Linked DNA regions of Homo sapiens: regions 2 and 3 are each linked to region 1. The links come from fine-mapping of genetic effects on gene expression. A gene starts in region 1. Each other region holds a variant in brackets. All regions are shown on one strand. Distances are between the middles of the regions.

What was found. PIP is the estimated chance that this variant, and not a neighbour inherited with it, causes the effect.
Region 2: its variant is fine-mapped to the expression of C6orf163 in whole blood (TOPMed, PIP above 0.99).
Region 3: its variant is fine-mapped to the expression of C6orf163 in whole blood (TOPMed, PIP 0.93).

The regions. Positions count from the first base shown.
Region 1 is chr6:87,343,252-87,346,021 of GRCh38, reverse strand. It overlaps C6orf163 (chromosome 6 open reading frame 163), which reads right to left and starts at 1,209. Exons shown (of 5, transcript NM_001010868.3): 1 at 775-1,209. The coding sequence starts at 922.
Region 2 is chr6:87,363,677-87,366,446 of GRCh38, reverse strand. C6orf163 (chromosome 6 open reading frame 163) reads right to left here. Exons shown (of 5, transcript NM_001010868.3): 5 at 984-1,486. The coding sequence ends at 1,051. Among named protein-coding and RNA genes, the nearest start is that of C6orf163, 20 kb to the right of the region's middle. The variant A/G (reference allele first, on the strand shown) is at 1,373.
Region 3 is chr6:87,486,764-87,489,533 of GRCh38, reverse strand. The region is part of intron 2 of SLC35A1 (solute carrier family 35 member A1); the gene reads right to left. It also overlaps the pseudogene RNU6-444P. Among named protein-coding and RNA genes, the nearest start is that of SLC35A1, 15 kb to the right of the region's middle. The variant G/A (reference allele first, on the strand shown) is at 1,266.

The sequences.
Region 1 (2,770 bases):
ATATGTATCTACTTTTATGCTACCAGCTACTATTTAAAGGTTATATAGTTTCTTTTACCCATTTATTAGGGTACTTTAAAATTTTTTTTTTTTTTTTTTTTTTTTGAGGCAGAGTCTCGCTCTGTCACCCAGGCTAGAGTGCAGTAGCACGATCTCAGCTCACTGCAACCTCCACCTCCTGGGTTCAAGCAATTTTCTTACCTCAGCCTCCCGAGTAGCTGGGATTACAGGCGCATGCCACCATGCCTGCTTAAATTTTTTTAGTAGAGACGGGGTTTCGCCATGTTGGCCAGGCTGGTCTTGAACTCTTGGCCTCAAGTGATCTGCCCACCTCGACCACCCAAAGTGCTGGGATTACAGGTGTGAGCCACTGTGCCCATCCAATTAGGGTGTTATTTAGAGATAATATTTCCTCTCCTACACATACTGAAAGGTGCTCAAGTATGGCCAAGGGCAAAATGAACTCACATTTACTATTATGTGCCAGGATTTATAATAGATACAAATACTTCATTAAAGTCTCATAACAACCTGTAAGATAGGTATTAGTATATTTATTTCCACATAAGGAAACAGATTGAGAGGCTAAATACCCTGCCCAATACATACAACTGTAAGTGGAGAAGCTGTATTCCAACCCATATTCTCCTCAAATATCCCTGTAGGGACAAGCAACTCTGAAGAGAAAAAAGCTGATAAAAGTCTATGTAACAGAAAGAATGACACATAAGGCTATGAAGCATTAGAACAAAGGAAAACGATAAAGTCACTTACCTAGTATGTCTTTGTGAGTGTAAAAGCGTGTCTTAAGTGGCTTGTATTCATGGATCCGTTTGAAGGTTTTTCCAAAAGGGGCTGGTGGAATTATTTTATTACAAACAGCACAGCAAACAAAGTTTTTGTAATCTGAATTTCTGATCATAGTTAAATTTCAGATGTCTTCTCCTACTTACAGTTAAAATAATCTTAGAATCAGAAAAAGTCGTTTCAAGAAAAGCTGAAAGTTTAAGAAAGCTGGAAGAGGTTCAGGGTTTTAGGATAATGCTAGAGGCTGGTAAGGATTAAATGGTTCAAGTGATTAGGCTGTGGTTATGTGTCTAACGTTAAAGAATGGTGCTAAAAGCCCCTGCCATAGAAGGTATGGGCACCAGATTTGGGAAGATTTAAGTAGTTGCTCCTTCCCAGACTCTAGCATTAAGTTGTTAACTTACTTGGCAACTGTTGCTAGGTAAGACAAGCTTTGCTCATAAAAGCAACTTCAAATAATGACAAAAGGGAGCATGATACAGCCATTCATTTTCCTGATACTTTCTATATTAGTTTCCTATTGCTGCTGTCTTACTCTGTTTTCTGTTGCTTATAATAGAATACCTGAAACTGGATAGCTTATAAAGAAAATGAAATTATTTCTTACAGTTTATGGAGGCTGAGAAGTCCAAGGTGGAGGAGTTGCATCAGGTAAGAATCTTCTTGGTGGTGGGAACTCACTGAAGATTCCTGAGGTGGTATAGGGTATGACATGGCCAGGGGCTGAGCTCACATGCTAGCTCAGGCCTCTCTTCCTCTTCTTATAAAACCACCAGTTCTCCTCCCATGATAATCCATCAATCCCTTAACCCATGAATGAATTCACTCACCCCTTAAAGGCCCCACTTCTCAATACTACCACGTTGGGGATTAAAGTTCAACATGAGTTTTGCAGGGGACAAATATTCAAACCATAGCACCACTGTGACAAACTACACAAACTTCATAGTTTAAATGTAACACAAATTTATCCTCTTGCATTTCTGGAGATCAGAAGTCTAAAATGAGTCTTAGGGGCTAAAATCAAGTTGTTAGAAGGGCTGGTTCCTTCTGCAGGCTTCAGAGGAGAATGTGTTTGCTTGCCTTTTCCAGCTTCTAAAGGCCATCCATATTCCTTGGGGTCATGGCCTTGCATCATATAGCCTTTTCCCCCAGTGCTTCCATAGTGACATTGTCTCTTCCTCTGATCTTCTGCCGTGCTTTAAAGACCTTGGTGATTATACCAGCCCCATCTAGATAATCCAGGATAATCTCCCCATCTCAAAATCCTAAACTTACCCATATCCGTAAAGTCCCATATTTACAGGTTCCAGAGATTAGGATCTGGACATTTTTGCAGGGAAGGAGAGCATTAGTCAGCCTACCACACTTTGTTTTAAATTAGTTTTTAAAGAATTAATTTCTTTTAAGGCCAGCAATGGAGGTAGCTTAATTTCTTTTAGGTTTTTAATAAACATGATGTGTTGGTGCCATGGTAATAAAACTGGGAAATATCATGGTATCTTGAAGAAGAAATTACTTTCATTAAGGCAGCATTCAAAATTACTAAGCCTGGTTTTAAAAATCACATGGTTAACTAATTTGTTCCTATAATTTTAGATAAACAGCCATAGAAATTCCACCTATCGCAAAAATCTGTGCAACTGATTGTACCAAGTAACTGAATTTATAAAATTGCCTGACAATGTCATATGCTGCATCTACTTGGCAGGACTATTTTATAATAAGTGAGTGCCATCAGTGAAATTAATTTCAACAACAGGACTCCCATAGGGCCCTGAGCTAAGTGTACCACAAGTTACTCTATAATTTATATTAACACATACGGCCTGATAACTGGCTGAAGACCTTAAGTAACTATCAAATTGTGCCAGATTTGACTTCAAGAAAAGGGTTAACTGGGACTTGGAGAGGAATTAAAAACAAAGAGATGAATTAGTATGAAGAATGAGGATTACTGCAT
Region 2 (2,770 bases), 20 kb before region 1:
TCAGAGAGGTGGATTTGAGAAATATCTCCCATCTTTTTTTCTTTTACAACTGGCAAATATAGATGAGTCTGTAGCCATACCAGACCCATGTGGCCCAACTTTCACGTAACAAAGTAGTACAGTGTTTTTCAGTTGCCATGGACCCTCAGGTCATGTAATCTGAGCATGCCCAGATGGACCAAGTGTTCAACCACAGAGGGAACCTGATTGCTCTGACTCAGGAGTGGGAACTGAATTAAGAAGTGGACACTGCATGGCAGGATCCAGAATCCAACTGGATTGAGCTTTGGCATCACCCCATGGCAGGATCCAGTTAGATCATGCCTCCTGACATCCCCTCATTGCAAGACCCAGTCAGATCATGCCTCATTACCCTATGTTTATAAAACCTGACCCAGCCCCCAGCTCAGGCAGACACTGCTTTGGGGACTATCCCTGGTGTTCTCCTTACTCCTTATAAGTAATAAAATCCCCTTGCTAAATCTTCTTTGGTTGTGGTCATTGAGTTGACACCCACCAAGTGACTGAACCTGCTTGTTGTGTGGGTAGCAAGTCCTTCCTGAATTACTTTATATGGGAGTCCCAGAATTTAAATTTTATCCTACTGAATTTGAGAGAAATTGCTTTTTTAAATTCACAATGCTACTGCATTCACCAAATGATAAACTGTCTACTGGAACTTAGCACACCTGCCCAAAACAGGAACAACCTAAGAACACTTTCCTTTACTTGTTTTCTATGGCAATAAATGCTGAAATAATTAATTATATGTCTGATGTAGAAATGAATAAAGACAGATACAGAAGTGTGTTTAGGCTTCATCCAAGAAACCTTTCCCCTCTTAATCAGTTTGCTACCTCTCACTATTTTTTCTTCTCAGACTTGGCTCAATATAATCTGGAATGTGCTTTTTAATATTTTGGTTTTCCATGAAAATTCTTATAGCCCAATAGTACCCTGCACAAGGCTGGGGAATCAATACATGGTTTTTGAGTAAATTTATTTAGTCTGGAATGATGTCTTTTGTAGTGGAATTTCAACTGAAGACTTCTAATCAAGAGTTGTTTTGTTCTCCTTAATAACAAGATTAGAAGGTGTTTTCTTTCTTTCTGGCAGAATAAAATCTGCATGTCCTGGTGAAAGCTTAGGAAAGGTATAATTGATGTATTTTTGAAATGCCATCCTGGTTTCCTGTAATTCCTCCTCTAGGAAATCTTTCCAATTTGTCATGATTCCCAGTTGTTTTGCTATAGACAGCAGCTCCCCCTGGGTGTTAGCCAGTTTATCCATCATATTGCCAAGAGTGGCCTGATGTGTTTTCTCTGCTTCTTGAAGCACTTCCTGTACCTCTTCTTGCCTCTGCCTCTGAGCT[A/G]TGCCATAGAGGATGCTCATTTCATGTTCTTTTTCCCTCATCAGTCGGGCCACACTGGTCTTCTCATCCTTAATAACTGTGACACCAGTATTCACAATTTCCTCCACGGCTTTGCTACAAAAGATAATATGGATTTATAATTTAGATGGATTGGCCACTAAAAACAAAATAATTTCATCTTTAAACGCAGATGAATGAGCAATTGTTGAGATGAGCCACCAGCCTGAGACAGGCTGATACGGATGAGCTTTTGGATTGCATTAGCTGTTATCAAACAAAACACATTTTCAGAGCAGGGAGGCTTCCTATGTACTTCCCTGCTGTGGGCTAGGGTGAGGCCACTAGTCTAACTTCTAACGGCAACTTTAGGAACCTGAGATCACCTTTTTCAGGAAAATATACATGCATTGTGCTTAAAAATGAGGAGATAAGGGTCAGAGTTCCAAACTCTGTAGAGAAAGTATTTCTTTATATTAATCCAGCTGCTGACCTTTAGCCAGAGATGAAAAATCCTTATACTCACAGGATAGATTTAGCTTTAATCTTGATTTTATCTGAGCAATACTCTATGACAGTCACCTCAAGCTTTTTGGTCTCGGGAGCTCTTTACAGTCTCAAAATTATCGAGGAAGCCAAAGAGCTTTTGTTTATATGAGTTATAGGCATTGACATTAACAGTTATATAAACTAAAAGGGAGACATTTTTAAAATATTAAAAATCTCTTATGAAAAACATTTTCCCAAACAATGAAATATTTCATGAGAAGAATGGTATAATTTAACTTTTTTTTTGAGACAGTGTCTTGCCGTCACCCAGGCTAGAGTGCAATGGCCTGGCCCTGGCTTACTGCAACCTCCAGCTCCCAGGTTCAAGTGATTCACATGCCTCAGCCTCCAGAGTAGCTGGGATTACAGGTGTGCACGACTACACCCAGCTAATTTTTGTATTTTTTAGTAGAGATGGGATTTTACCATGTTGGCCAAGCTGATCTCAAACTCCTGACCTCAAGTGATCCACCCGCCCTGGCCTCCCAAAGTGCTGGGATTACAGGTATAAGCCACTGTACCCAGCCTAATTTTTTTTTTGCACAACTCTTTAATCTCTGGCTTATTAGCAAAAAGCTGAATTTTCATACTGTTTCAATTTATTGTGATATCACACATCACAAAACCCCTGGAGAACACCATTTTATATTCATAGGAGACTAAGAGTGAAAAAGGCAAATAAAGTCTTAGTGTTATGCTGCTATAAAGACACATGCACACGTATGTTTATTGCGGCACTATTCACAATAGCAAAGACTTGGAACCAACCCAAATGTCCAACAATGATAGACTGGATTAAGAAAATGTGGCACATATACACCATGGAATACTATGCAGCCATAAAAAATGATG
Region 3 (2,770 bases), 140 kb before region 1:
TCACAGTTGAGCAGGCTGAGAAGTTCAAGGGCATGGCCCTGGCTTCTTCGAGGGCTTTCCTGCTGCATCACATGGCAGAGAAGGTCTAAGGGGAGGTGGACACGTGTGAAGAGAGCAAAACATGAGGAGCATCCTGGCTTTATAACCCACTCCCGAGAAATAATCAATTCCTGCAAGAACTAATCCTGTCTCTTGAGAGCCACAGCTCACTACCAGGAAAACAGTACCAAACCATTCATGAGGAATTTGCCCCCACAACCTAAACACCTCCCACTAGACCCCGCCTCCCAACATCACCACACTGGGGATAGAATTTCAATATAAGTTTTGGTGGAGACAAATCACATCCAAGCCACAGCATATAACCAGGACAAAGAAAATATTTGGAATTAGAATTAAGCTATTGTCTTCCAATGTTTTAGCAAACCAGTTATACCCTTCAGCCTACAAAACTTTTACCATACTAATGTGAATGTTAGGATATCCATGCCTCATGGCATGCAACCCATCTACAGCTACCCTAAGGAAGGCATTAAAGGCAAGAGAAAGAACAAAAGACAATGGGGTCTCAGCCCTTTGACCTAGATTGCCATCATGGGTTCTGTCCAAAAAGGACTACCTGGTTATAGAACCTCTCTACCACCTCAAATTCTGAAAAAGAGACTGGCATTTCATTTAAAACATGGATCTGGAACCTTGCTGATCCATTTGGTCACACAAAATTTTTAGTCAGAGATTGTATGAATTAGTCCCTTTCCAGGCTCAAAGTTCTTACACATGAAGTGAGTGTGACTAGACTTCAGATCTCCAAAACCTCACCAAGAACAATCCATGGAGCTACAATTGCCTCTGCTTAAATTCTTGGGACCTGAAGATTCTAATTTGCACACTTGATTGAGTTATACCTACCCTGGCCTGCTTAATTTAACTCTTACAAAGTTCTAGGGCACTGCCTCAGTACCAGACTGACTCCTTTGTTTTTTGAATGTGGAATGCTTTACAAATCTGCATGTCATCCTTGCACAGGGGCCATGCTATCTTCTCTGTACTGTCCAAATTTTTAGTATTATGTGCTGCCAAAGCAAGCACTCCTTTGTTGTTTCTTAAACAAGCTGCCTTCCATTTCTCTAAACAGAGCACACCTATCATGTGTTCCTCTTTATATTAGTCCTGGGGTTTCTGGTTATCCTGTCCAGAAAACAGCAATCTTTAAGGTACATGGAGTCAAATGACATTACAAATAAGATTGTTTTTACACGATCATT[G/A]TTTTTTAACAATGTCTTCCAATTCCATGAGATTAAATACTTTTATGTGATAAGAACTCCCAAATTTATATCTCTAGCCCAGACCTCTCTTCTGAGTTCCAGACCCATTTAATCCAACTGCCCATTTGGATGTCTCAAGACATTAAAAACTTTAAATTATACCTACCCAAAATCAAACTGTTGATATCTTTTTCCCCCAAATCTGTTTTTCCTGTTTCAAAAAACAAAAATAATAATAACTCTACCCAATTGTTTATACTAGGAAACACAGATATGCTTCCTGATACCTCCCTTTCCTTCCCCTACTATAGTTGATTATTATTATTCATGGACTGTACGTGTGAATTCTCCACTCATTAAAATGTATCTGTAACCCCCAAATCAATGCTGGTAACACTTGCAGTCATTGGCAGACATGTGCAGAGTGGCAAAAAATTTGATTCACCAAGTGTGCACATTCCTGGCTGACGCTGAACAAGTTAACATTCTGCCTTGTTTCCGCTTTCAGATCATAAACAAGTGCAATCTATTCAGTACCACATTTTTTGCATTTTTGTGCTTTGTGTTGGTGATTTTGTTTAAATGGCTCCCAAGCATTGTAGGGCTGACGCACTGTCTGATGTTCCTAAGTATAAGAAGGATATGCTATATATTATGGAGAAAATACATGTGATAGATAAGCTTTGTTCAGGCATGTTATAGTGCTGTTGGCCATGAGTTCAATGCTAATTAATCAATAATGTACATTAAATAAAGTGTCTTTAGATTGAAGCACACACAAAACAAGGTTATTGTATTGATTAATTGACAAAAATGTGATCAGTTGCTCACAGGAAACTACCCTGTATATCCCCTAGGAGCAGGTTATCCAAACCCATCACGAAGTCCTACAGATTCTACTGCCAGAGCATAACTCAAATCCATTAACTTCTCTTCGTGACCTGTGCTGTCATCCTAGCTGATTATCTCTTGCCTCTATTGTTTCCCTACTTCTAATTCATTCTCAAAGAGGTCAAAGTGACTCTCAACATGGGTTCTATGTTAGTCCCTCACTTAAACCATTTAATGACTTTCTTTTTCTTTTTTTTCTTTTGAGACGGAGTCTTGCTCTGTCACCCAGGCTGGAGTGCAGTGGTGTGATCTCAGCTCACTACAACCTCTGCCTCCCAAGTTCAAGCAATTCTCCTGCCTCAGCCTCCCAAGTAGCTAGAATACAGGCATGTGCCACCACGCCCAGCTAATTTTTGTATTTTTAGTAGAGATGGGGTTTTACCATGTTGGCCAGGCTGGTCTTGAACTCCTGACCTCAAGTGATCCACCTGCCTCAGCCTCCCAAAGTGCTGAGATTATAGGTGTGAGCCACCGCACCTGGCTCCACTCAATGATTTTTCTAATGCACTTCAGATTAAATCTAAAATCCTTAACAGGTCCATACTACTACTGTGATACCCTGATGACCTCTCCTGCTTCATCTCAGCACCAAAGTCAAGGACTTTTCTGCCTCA